3 linked regions of the Homo sapiens genome follow. The protein of the gene in region 2 interacts with the protein of the main gene of each other region in a pairwise test. Each region holds a gene or a part of one and is shown on either strand. Other genes may lie near its edges.

Evidence for each region. The genes of interacting proteins can lie anywhere in the genome.
Region 1: the proteins of C1D (region 2) and SASH1 interact in a two-hybrid assay, tested with the Homo sapiens proteins (one large-scale study listed by BioGRID).
Region 3: the proteins of C1D (region 2) and PCBD2 interact in a two-hybrid assay, tested with the Homo sapiens proteins (one large-scale study listed by BioGRID and IntAct).

The regions. Positions count from the first base shown.
Region 1 is NC_000006.12:148,548,836-148,552,745, reverse strand, and holds the end of SASH1 (SAM and SH3 domain-containing protein 1), read right to left. Parts: 3' UTR 702-3,910; downstream 1-701. UniProt on the Homo sapiens protein: Is a positive regulator of NF-kappa-B signaling downstream of TLR4 activation. It acts as a scaffold molecule to assemble a molecular complex that includes TRAF6, MAP3K7, CHUK and IKBKB, thereby facilitating NF-kappa-B signaling activation.
Region 2 is NC_000002.12:68,056,302-68,060,004, reverse strand, and holds part of C1D (nuclear nucleic acid-binding protein C1D), read left to right. Parts: intron 1-3,703. UniProt on the Homo sapiens protein: Plays a role in the recruitment of the RNA exosome complex to pre-rRNA to mediate the 3'-5' end processing of the 5.8S rRNA; this function may include MPHOSPH6.
Region 3 is NC_000005.10:134,908,129-134,911,831, forward strand, and holds part of PCBD2 (pterin-4-alpha-carbinolamine dehydratase 2), read left to right. Parts: intron 1-2,206; coding exon 2,207-2,338; intron 2,339-3,703.

The sequences.
Region 1 (3,910 bases), on a different chromosome or scaffold from region 2:
AGCCTTTAAGGAAATGGGAGAATGTTGACATGGGAGGACCTCCAAGATGTATTCATTTAGAAGTATGGTGAATAGCATGAAAAATCTGCTCTCATTTCTGTATGGCGAAATACATATGCAATTATATTTATAAATACAGAAGAGTTTCTCTGAAAAGATGGTAATTTTTTAAATAGTTTCTCAAATGCATACATTACCTCTCAAAGTTTATTACAAACACCCTCTTCTCCCTATTAAAAATGTGTCTTTGTATCAATTGTGGTACGCTGAAATTAAAAACCCATTATTGTCATGTTGATTAATTTCTAGGCTATCCAGACCTAGACTTGTTTTTTCTTTCTCAGTAGAAGATATGGGTGGTGGTGTCATTTAGCTGTATAATATTGAGCAAGTCAATCATCCATATGGACTCAGATTCTTCATTTGAAAATGATAATCTTAGACTCAAGATGACTTCCAAAAAATATCTTGCTGGTCTAAGGTGCTATCATTATATGACTCGATTATGCATATTTGAAAATAAAGCAATAAAGTGGCAAAGAGAATCTGGGTGGATGTCAGAGGGTGAGTTCTGGTGATGGCAGAATTGCAGACAACTACAATTTTCCCAGTATATTTCATTATTTGACCACTTTATAAATTCCTTTTCATTTCTACTCCATTCATCTTTAAAATACCCAAGAAACAACAAAAAAGGCATATTCAACTGAAGAAATTTATTTACTTTTTTCTAGGTACATAGATGACATAATTATAGACAAGTTTTGATACATAGGAAAACCCTTCCGTCCACCTCTCTTTATGCTAAATGAATCATCACAATAATTTTTACAATTTTTAAAACAATACACAGCTTTCTTGGGCTGAAGCAATTGCAAGAACATATTGGTACTGGTATATTACAGCTACTTACAATGTTTTTAAGAACAGCAATGGAGAAAAATAAGTTATTTAAATATTGATTTCATATACAGAAAGTGCAATGTTGTTAGTTGTTATATAACTTGCTCGACAGTTTCTTTTCTCTATCAATTTTAAATCAAGATAACTTGGACTCAGACTATTATATTTTTTTCTGAAAATAATACAGTACACACATGGCAGCAGTGACTTGGCAAGTTGACCTTTTTTGCTGCAGTTATGAAAGCAAACTTTACTATGTCAGGAACTGATTTCCAATAGATTAGTAATTTCCAATTTCACCCATACCTGGGGGTTCAGGACAGAGAAAAGGGCCTCTGACTAAGGCAAGGCCATGAAACAATATCTTAGTTATCTGGGTACATAAATAGTACTAGCTGGAGCTGACTGCATTTCCTTCCAGACAGCTTTGAAGTGAAAATCATACACAATGTTATGTGTAGCTACCTGAGCCGAACTGCCTTTCCAGGTTTCTTTTGTGCTTTCCAAAGACAACAATTTTCACCATTACTCAAAATTCTGTACCAAATGCAACTGATTAAAACTGGATATTCCTGAAGCCTACCACCTGTTCACTAATGTCCACAGGCAGCCCCAATCCACCTCAGTCAAACGTCACACCCAAACATTCAGCTTTTCTCAGACCAAATTAAATGTTTACAGAAAAAAAAAAGACCAAACGCTAAAGATATTTTTAAAATATTTAAACAACACAATAAAGTAAAAACAACCTCAGACCCCTCAGACTAGACATTCCCACTGAAAATTCTTTGTGGTCCCTGAATTTGATTTTCTATGCAAAGGCATTGATTTCCAAAGAAGTGTGATAAAAATGTGGTTTGGCATTCTCAAAAACTCCAGAAAGTTCCCTCTTCTGCTGCGACTTTCACTGAAATGAAAATCCTTCATGGAGAACGAATTAAAACTTGGAAATTCACATGAGATTTCTCTCGCTCCTTTGTTATCTCATCTCTTACACAACTTTTGTGTGGTTTTTTGCTCAGCTTAAACAATGACAGGATCTGTCCAAATGTCAAGCCGAGGTATTTTGAGAGCAGGAAGAGAAGAAGCCTGTCTACAGCACCCACATCCACCACAGCACGTGAAATGCATTGAACGCTTTAGCTATACAAGAACCCTGCAGCTTCATTACATTGCAAATAGGCTAGGCCACAACCCGAGAGGACAAACAAACATGAGCTGTTTTTAAGAGTTCAACAGAAATTTGGCAGCTTTAGCTTTTTATTCTACATTTCCACAACTTCTTCACATGGCATCTTATAGAAGATGAAAATTAATTATTAAAGAAACATGCATTATTTTTTAAAAATGCATACTAATGCATGAAAAAAATACATCACCTGAGAATGTCTTTTTCCTCAGAAACATGGATCCAGACATAAGCAATATGCTAAAGATGGCTTTCTAATTAATTTATGAAATCACTTCCCCTCCAACCCAAGGGAAATTATTTGTTTTAATAAGTAGATGAAATATTATAAAATGTTCAATCAAGGGCTTGTGGTCAAGGTGTTTCTATTATAAATGATTGACCTTTATATTTTAGATGATTGCATTTGATGCTTAAAATAGTGTTCATGATAAGAATGTAAAGGAAAATCATTTTGTAAGCAATGGAAACCATAATAGTTTACTTGTTTAAATTTACTGTTTGCTAGAAAACCAGACACTAGACTAAAAGAGGACAGAGGCCAGGTGCGGTGGCTCACACCTGTAATCCCAGCACTTTGGGAGGCTGAGGCGGGTGGACCACCTGAGGTCAGGAGTTGAGTTTGAGACCAGCCTGGCCAACATGGTGAAACCCTGTCTCTACTAATAATACAAAAATTAGCTGGGCGTGGTGGTGGGTGCCTATAATCCCAGCTACTCGGGAGGCTAAGGCAGGAGAATCACTTGAACCTGGGAGACTGAGGTTGCAGTGAGCCAAGATCGTGCCATTGCACTCCAGCCTGGGTGACAAGAGCGAAACTCCATTTCAAAAAAAAAAAAGGATAGAATGTGCTGAAATCAGTTGTAAAACAATTTAAAGTAGCAAATACTTAACACATGGCTAATGAGATTTGTCTGGTTCCATAGTGAACCTTTGTTTAAATTAAAAGAATTATCTAAATAAAAAAAGAAGGATAATAATAGTATTAGTTGTAATACTGAAAAGTCTTTTAGAAAACATCTTATACATGACTTCCCTTATTAAGGACATCTTTCTGAAATATGCAGCCTCACAGTGACCTTTTGCAAACATGATCCGTTAACTGAGGACTGAATTTTGGGATGGACATGGTCAGGATTCCAAGTCAATACTGCAGCGCGACGATCCACACAGTAACGATACTAAACTGGTTAAAACCAAAAGCAGTCACTATGAATACAGACACACACGCGCACGCACGCACGCACACACATGATATTTGTGAATTTCAGATAGCTTTTTACTAGATTTGTAGTTAGCTTAAAAACCAAAAACCAACATGAAGTGTGTGGCTGATGAATACCTCTACAAAATAAGCCATGTTACAATGAGACGATTAGAAAAGCTCACTTTTGCTGGAAACATCCCAGAGAGGTTCGATGTCTGCCTAAGCTGAAGATGTGGAAGTATGGTTACAGGGTTGTGGACACTAGTTAGATAACTGCTTAAAAGCTTATATTAAGGCAAATAAAAGCTGATTGCTAGAAAGCAATTATGAAAATGTCTCTTGTTTATCTAAAGAAGAACAGGACTTTTTTTTTTTTTTTTTCCTGGTGCAGCCAGATGTTCTAACTTTTGAACAAATGAGCGTGGTCAGTAATGTACAATAACTCTTGAGTCTGTTACTTTGGCCTAGCTAAGCCCATCTGGCCCTCGGGCATCCTGCAAGATGACAGACAGAAGAGCAAGGGCACTATCAGAAATGGAACAGGCTGCCCCCTACTCCTCCCAGCCTCTACCAGTACACAGAGACAGACTGGAGATAGAGCATTCGCAGCC
Region 2 (3,703 bases):
ATAAGTTTTTGATGTCTGTTAGTCATCTAAGTGGAGATGTTGAGTAGGCAGTTGAATATGTTCATTCTGGACTTCAGAGTGGTCATTGCTGGAAACAGACGTTTGGGAATTGTCAGTGAACAGATGGTATTTAAAGTTGTGAGACCGGAGACAGTCGTTAAAGGAGTAAATGTAGACAGAAAAGAGAAGGGGCACAAGGCCTGAGTCCTTAGGCATTTTAACAAGTTGGGAAAATGAGGAATAACCACCAAATGAGACAGACTGAGCAGCCAGTGAGGGACAAGGACAATTTTGAGTCTGGTGTTGTAGAATTTACAGTAGAGTAGTATGTTCAGTTTTGTCAGGTGCAGCTGATGGATCAGGTGAAATGAAGATTGACACCTTTGGATTTATCAAGAACTTAAGGAGTGTTATTGATAGATATGTGATAATGTTAAGTCAAGCAGATAGTTGCACACCAGTGTGATAACTGTATTACAGTTATATTCAGAGAACCTTGGGAGCAGAGGAAGAAGAGACCACTTTTGTTTGGGAGGTATGGACACCTTTATAGAGGAGGGAGCATTTGAGGTGGGTTTTAAAGGATTGATAAGTTTCACTAGGCCAAGAAAATGGAGACTGTTATGAAGAGGAGGTTGATATGATTTGGGTATGTGTCTCCTCCAAATCTCTTGTTGAAATGTCACTTCCAGTGTTGGAGGTAGGCCTAGTGGGAGATATTTGGGTCATGGAGGCAGATTGAATGTCTTGGTTTGTCCTTGAGGTAATGAGTTGAGTTCTCACTCTATTAGTTCACTCCTAGAGCCGGTTGTTTAAAAGAACATGGAAGCTCCTCTTTCTCTTGCCACTTCTCCTGCCCTGTCACATGCCTGCTCCCCCTTTATCTCACCAAAAGCAGATGCTGACACTATGCTTCTTGTGTAGCCTGCAGAACTGGGAGCCAAATCTAACCTCTTTTCTTTATAAATTACCCAGCCTCAGGTATTCCTGCATAGCAATGCAAAACGGAGGAACACGGGTATTCCAAGTAGAGGGAAAGGACTATGACAGGACCTCAATTCCCTTCCTTCATGGTCACATCTCCCAGTTAGCTGTTTTAAAGATGCTTTTGTCAGTCCTCTTTCCTCTGTGGCCACTTGCTAATGCCCCATGTTCGGTAGCTCCAGGCCTGCTGAATGTTGCTAAGGAAATCGGAGATTCTAGTCACGTGGAGTAGTGACAGGAACAGAAGTTGAGTGTGATGTTGGGGAATAGGGTAAAGATGGGAGTTAAGGCTGGAAGGGTTAGAGGAATAGATTTTCAGGGAGGAACAAACCTTATATGTTGTATTAAAGATTTTGTCCAGAGAGCATCCCACACAAATCCACTGATGGGATTTGTGAGGGATGTTCCTCCTCCATTCGATTTGAGTTCCATTCTGCCGAACTTTACCACTTACCAGCCCTGTGACCTGTTTCTGTTGTGCCATCTGTAAAGTGAAGCTAATATTAGTGCCCAGTCGTAGAGTTGTGAGAACTCTCTCTGCCCGCACTACAGTTTTTGTCTGCTTAATTCATCTCTGTCATCGAGTGCTTTCTTGAGGAAGCTTTCTGTCTTCCCTCAGATTGTCATGTACACTAGTTTATAGTCTCATAGCATGATTTATTTCTTCATATTACTGTTGTAATTTTATATTTCTGTGATTCTTTGATTAATGTCTATCATCCACACTAAACAGTAAGTGCAGAGCAGGCAAGTTTTTGCTCACTATTATCTTCCAAGTATCAGGGCTGCCTATCATGGAGGCTAATTAAATATCTATTGAATAAGAGAGTCCTTAGTGTCTGGCATGTGGTAAATGCTCAGTAAATATTACTCATTTACATGACATTTTGCAATAAGTGCTGAGGAGGTATCAGGGATAAATAAAGGAACTGTCAGGCAACTGACAGAGGACCTGTTGCAGTTGGGTAGCATTAATTTATGTCTTTTGTGAATTTCGTTAGGAATGAATGTTCAGTAGGCCTAGAGCTAGAATGGTTGGCTGGGGGCAGAAAGAGAAGATGAGAACTTGCAAAAGCATCTTTAAACCAGTTGACTGGGAGGTATGGCCATGTAGCAAGCAGGCCAGAGGAGGCTTTTGTACCATGAGAATAGAGGAAAATAGCCGCCTGGTGGCTAGACAATTTAGGTGTAGAAAACACATTTATATGGTTCTTTGAATGTAACAGTGGTAAAGAATATAGGTTTAGTTGTTGCTGCTAAGTAGGGGGAAATGACATTTTTATCTGGTATGTTTGAGAATAAAGTAAATTTCAAAATTTGAGATGATCGAAGTTTTTATTTATAAACTTAAGTATTATTATAATATGTTACATATTTTATTCTTTAAAAATTGTAATTCAGAGAGTGTAACAAAATGTACTTCCTCACTTTCTTGCTTTTTGTTTCCCAGAAGTGACCACAGTTAACAGCTTCTTTTGGATCCTTTAAGAAAACTTACATGCATATACCATACAAATATGCCTCCACATTCATATATCTTTTTTTCTTCAAAATAAATGGGATGAGCTGGGCGTGGTGGCTCACGCCTCTAATCCCAGCACTGTGGGAGGCTGAGGCAGGCAGATCACCTGAGATCAGGAGTTTGAGACCAGCCTGGCCAACATGGTGAAACCTCATCTCTACTAAAAATACGAAAAAAAAAAAAATAGCAAGGTGTGGTGGACGCCTGTAATCCCAGCTACTTGGGAGGCTGAGGCAGGAGAATCACTTGAACCCAGTAGGGGAGGTTGCAGTGAGTTGAGATCGCACCACTGCACTCCAACCTGGGCAACAAGAACGAAACTTTGACTCAAATAAATAAATAAATAAATAGGATGTATTATACATGCTGTTCTTCAACTTTTGTTCACTTAATATATCTTAGGAATCTTTCTAAGCTGTACCTCGTACCTTTTCACTACTGCAGAGTATTTTAATAGGTGGGCATATCATAATTTATTTAACCAGGTTCTAATAATGGATGTGTGGGTTGTTCTGTTTTAAAGTTTACTGTTTTAAAGATCATTGCAGTGGAAGTCCTTAAACATTATCTTGCGCTAAAATATACTTTGAGAAGTAAAATTGCTAGGTCAAAGCATGTGTACATATGTGATTTTGAAGCATAGTGCAGATTACCTCACAAAAATGCTAAACTAATTTATACCCTGACTAATAGTGAATGGGAGGCTGTTCTCAGCTCACCTTTGTCCATTTTAGTACTATTAATCTTTTTAATTTTTCCCTATTTGACAGATGAAAATGGCATCATATTTTAGCGATTTATGTTTCCTTAATTATCAGTAAGGCTGAGTAGCTTTCTTTATGCTTATTGGTCATCTGGATTATTTGTGAACTGTTGATTTTCTTGTTTATTTTTCTTTTGGGTTGTGTGTACTTTTTTTGTTATTGTTAAATTGATTCATAGAGGCTTTAAAAAAATCTTTGTGTTGCATATGTCTTTTTTTAGTTTTTTATTTGACATTAGTCTTGGGTGTTTGTTTATTTGTTTATTTTGCCTGCATTTTTAAGGGCCAGGTAAAAATACAAGAAATTAGGATTTTTTTTTTAAAGAAGGGAATTTGCTGGGCTCGATGGCTCACACCTGTAATCTCAGCACTTTGGGAGGCTGAGGTGGGCAGATCACAAGGTCAGGATTTCGAGACAGCCTGGCCAACATGGT
Region 3 (3,703 bases), on a different chromosome or scaffold from region 2:
CCAGGCTAGTCTTCAACTCCTGGCCTAAAATGATCCTCCCACCTCAGCTTCCCAAAGTGCCAGGATTACAGATGTGAGCCACTGTGCCCAGCCCTAGTAAATGTTTTTTTTTTTTTTTTTGAGACAGAGTTTCACTCTGTTGCCCAGGCTGGATGGCTGGGATTACAGGCGTGTGCCACCATGCCCAACTAATCTAGTAAGTGGTTTTTAACAACAAGCTTTTGCATATTTTTGTTTAATTAAAAAGTATTCTCTGCTGGGCACAGTGGCTCACGCCTGTAATCCCAGCACTTTGGGAGGCTAAGGTGGGCGGATCCCTCGAGGTCAGGAGTTTGCAACTAGCCTAGCCAACATGTGAAACCCTGTCTCTACTAAAAATACAAAATGTTAGCTGGGCGTGGTGGCATGCACCTGTAATCACAGCTACTCAGGAGGCTGAGGCAGAAGAGTCGCTTGAACCTGGGAGGCAGAGGTTGCAGTGAGCTGAGATCACACCACTGCACTCCAGCCTGGGTGACAGAGCAAGACTTGGTCTCAAAAAAAAAAAAAAAAAAGGTACTCTCATTCTTTCCTTTTGTTAGTTGTGGGGAAGAATAGCCGACCTAGCAAAGAAGAAAAACTAGAAAACTGATTTATTAGTATTTTTTTCTTCATAGAAAAAGTTGTCTAAAGGTAAAATCTTTTTCCTCTCTTAATATTAGTGATAAATGATTTTGGGATTTCTGAAGTGGGAGTGAGTTGCAGCTTAATGGCAGAGAATCCAGGGAATGCAGCTTAGCCCACAGTTGCCCTTTGATGAGGAGCCTTCACTAATGTTCATCTTTCTGGGTGACAGCCTCTCTCTCACCTGAGCCTACAGTAACTCTGCAAGTAGGTAAGGCAAGAAGTATTGCCTGGAATGAGAACCCTGCTTTCCTGACTTCTAGTCAAGTGTCCATATCTTCTCTCTGGCCCTGATGTTTAAAGTTATTTCAGTTAAAAAACCAATAGCATGGGAAGTGTGGGCCTGTTAACCAACAGAACCTGGCTTTGTGAATGTCATCCCCAGGATGCGTAGAAACAGGCCAGACAGTGCACACAAGTGCTTTGGACTGGGCAGTACTCTGGCCAAACTATGGAGAGAGTTTGTCTGACTGGTGCTCTGAGAAGAGGGCTTCATAAACCCACCCCACTGAGGCCAGGGCTTTTTACCTGTAGTCCAGAGGATCTGTGGACCCCCAGAAGTTAGATAAAATCCTATGTAAATGTGCATTTGTTTTTCCCCATCCGGGGATTGGTTTTCATTAGATGTGACAGGAGATGGTAATTCCAAATAGTTAAAACCATCTTTCATTCCTTTGTTCTCAAAAGACAGACCAAAACAAGGCTGGCTCTGTACAAAATAAGCTGTCTCTATGGTATGTTCCCTCTGGCCCCCTTACTGCTGCCTCAAACGTCACAGTTCAGCTTCTCTGGCTTATTAGAGATATAACAGAGAGTAGTGAAGGCTACTGAGGTGATGTAGGGCCATCCAAAGAGCAATAGACCAGGAGTTTGGAGCCTTGAATTTTAATTCTGGTCCTGCCAATAGACTTGCCACAAGTCCTAGAATTCTGCAGTGTCCAAGATGGCCGGTGGTAATAGTCAATCTTTGTTGTATCTGTAATAAACCACAGAAGGGCCGGGCGCAGTCACTCATGCCTGTAATTCCAGCACTTTGGGAGGTCCAGGTGGGCAGATCACTTGAGCTCAGGAATTCAAGGCCAGCCTGAGCAACATGGTGAAAATCCCTCTCTACCAAAAATACAAAAAATTAGTTGGGTGTGGTGGTGTGCACCTGTAGTCCCAGCTACTTGGGAGGCTGAGGTGGGAGGATCATTTGAGCCCAGGAGGCGGAGGTTGCAGTGAGCTGTGATTGCACCACTACGCTCCAGCCTGGGCGACAGAGCGAGACCCTGTCTCGAAACAACCAACCAACCAACCAGAGAAGCTGAATTGTGAAGTTTGAGGCAGCAGTAAGGGAGCCAGAGGTGACATGCCATGGAGGCAGCTTATTTTGCACAGAGCTAGCCTTGCTTTGGTCTCTTTAAGAGAACAAAGGAATGAAAGATGGTTAGAATTTGTTGCCTTTCAGACTTTTCTACATCTCTGCTTAAGGTAAGGAGCCATAAGTTTGAGTTTGAGTAAACTTGTACATTTTCAGATATGAAATGTGTTCTCTTCATAGTCATCAGGTACTCACAGGTTGACTGCAGAGGAGAGGAACCAAGCTATACTTGACCTTAAAGCAGCAGGATGGTCGGAATTAAGTGAGAGAGATGCCATCTACAAAGAATTCTCCTTCCACAATTTTAATCAGGTAATTGTTATAAATTCTTGCTAGGGCTGTGGTCTATTTTAGTCACCTTAGGCCATAACACTTTCTGATTCTGCCAGTTGTCTGGTCCCATGTAGATCTAGGATTCAACTCTTCCCTTCTTTAAGAATTCAGTGATAGAGTGACATCCTTGTTGACAGTTGCTACCACCCACCTGGGTGGTGTTTAGCTCTGGGGGAAGAGGGTGGTTTGTGTTACTTGGAAAACAAATTCTGAAACCACTATTGCTTTGGTATGGTGTTGGTTAGGATATGTAGTTTCTTTTGAAATTTCAAATAACATTAAAAGAGAGTGTAAGCCTTTTATTATTGATTATTATTTTTTGAGACAGGGTCTTGCTCTGTTGCCCAGGCTGGAGTACAGTGGTATGATTGTGGCTTACTGCTGCCTCGACCTCCTGGGCTCAGGTGATCCTCCCACCTTAGCCTCCTGAGTAGCTGGGACTACAGGCATGTGCCATGCCCAGCTAATTTTTGCATTGTTTGGAGAGGCAGGGTCTGGCTATGTTGCCCAGACTGGTCTCAAATTCCTGGCCTCAAGCGATCCTCCTGCCTTGGCCTCCCAATGTGCTGGGAATAGAGATATGAGCCACTGTGCCCAGCCTGAGCTTTTTATACTTATCAGAAAGGGGCATGAATAAAACTGGTTGAGGAAGATGTACCTGCTTGACTTATTTTCCCTGACTTTTTCTGGGCCGTTGGTAATTTTTCTTTCTTCCTGCAGTTAAATTTCTATCTCTCAGTCATCTCCCAGGCTGCACCCTTTTCCCTGACTGGCTTATTTTTCTCCAGCCCAGTAGCCAGATCCTGAACCTTTTCTTAAAACCTGACCTCCCCCTTGGAAGTCAGCTTTAACAAGGTAACTGTTCCATTAGGGACCCACCCTGTTTAGAGAGTCATCTCCCATGACTTAACCTTCAGTTATTACACCACTGCATTTGTAAAAGGTAAATGCTTTTGACTATTTTGTTTGTTCAGTTAGTTTGGTAATCCTTTGGACAGATTTATTGTTTTTATTTATATTGGGTGTCGGCATCTAGAAGTCAGAGACCATGTTTGCTTAAATAACTCTCTATTGTACCCAACACAGTTCTGGGTACAAACAGGCATTTGATAAATGCAGACATTGATTACAGTGTTTGCTAGTTTCTAGAAGGGTGTGTGAGGACCAGATTTGCACCAAAGAAACCTTCGGCATGTTTTCCTAGTAAATGTCATTGGCTCCACTGAGCTGCATGCCCGATTCTGTTCTCTATCCATCTGGCTGCCAGCCTCTGCTGTGAGTCTCCAACTCCTAAGGAAACCTGGACCAAGCAGACTCCCTGTCCCCGCTGCCCCACGTGCTCAA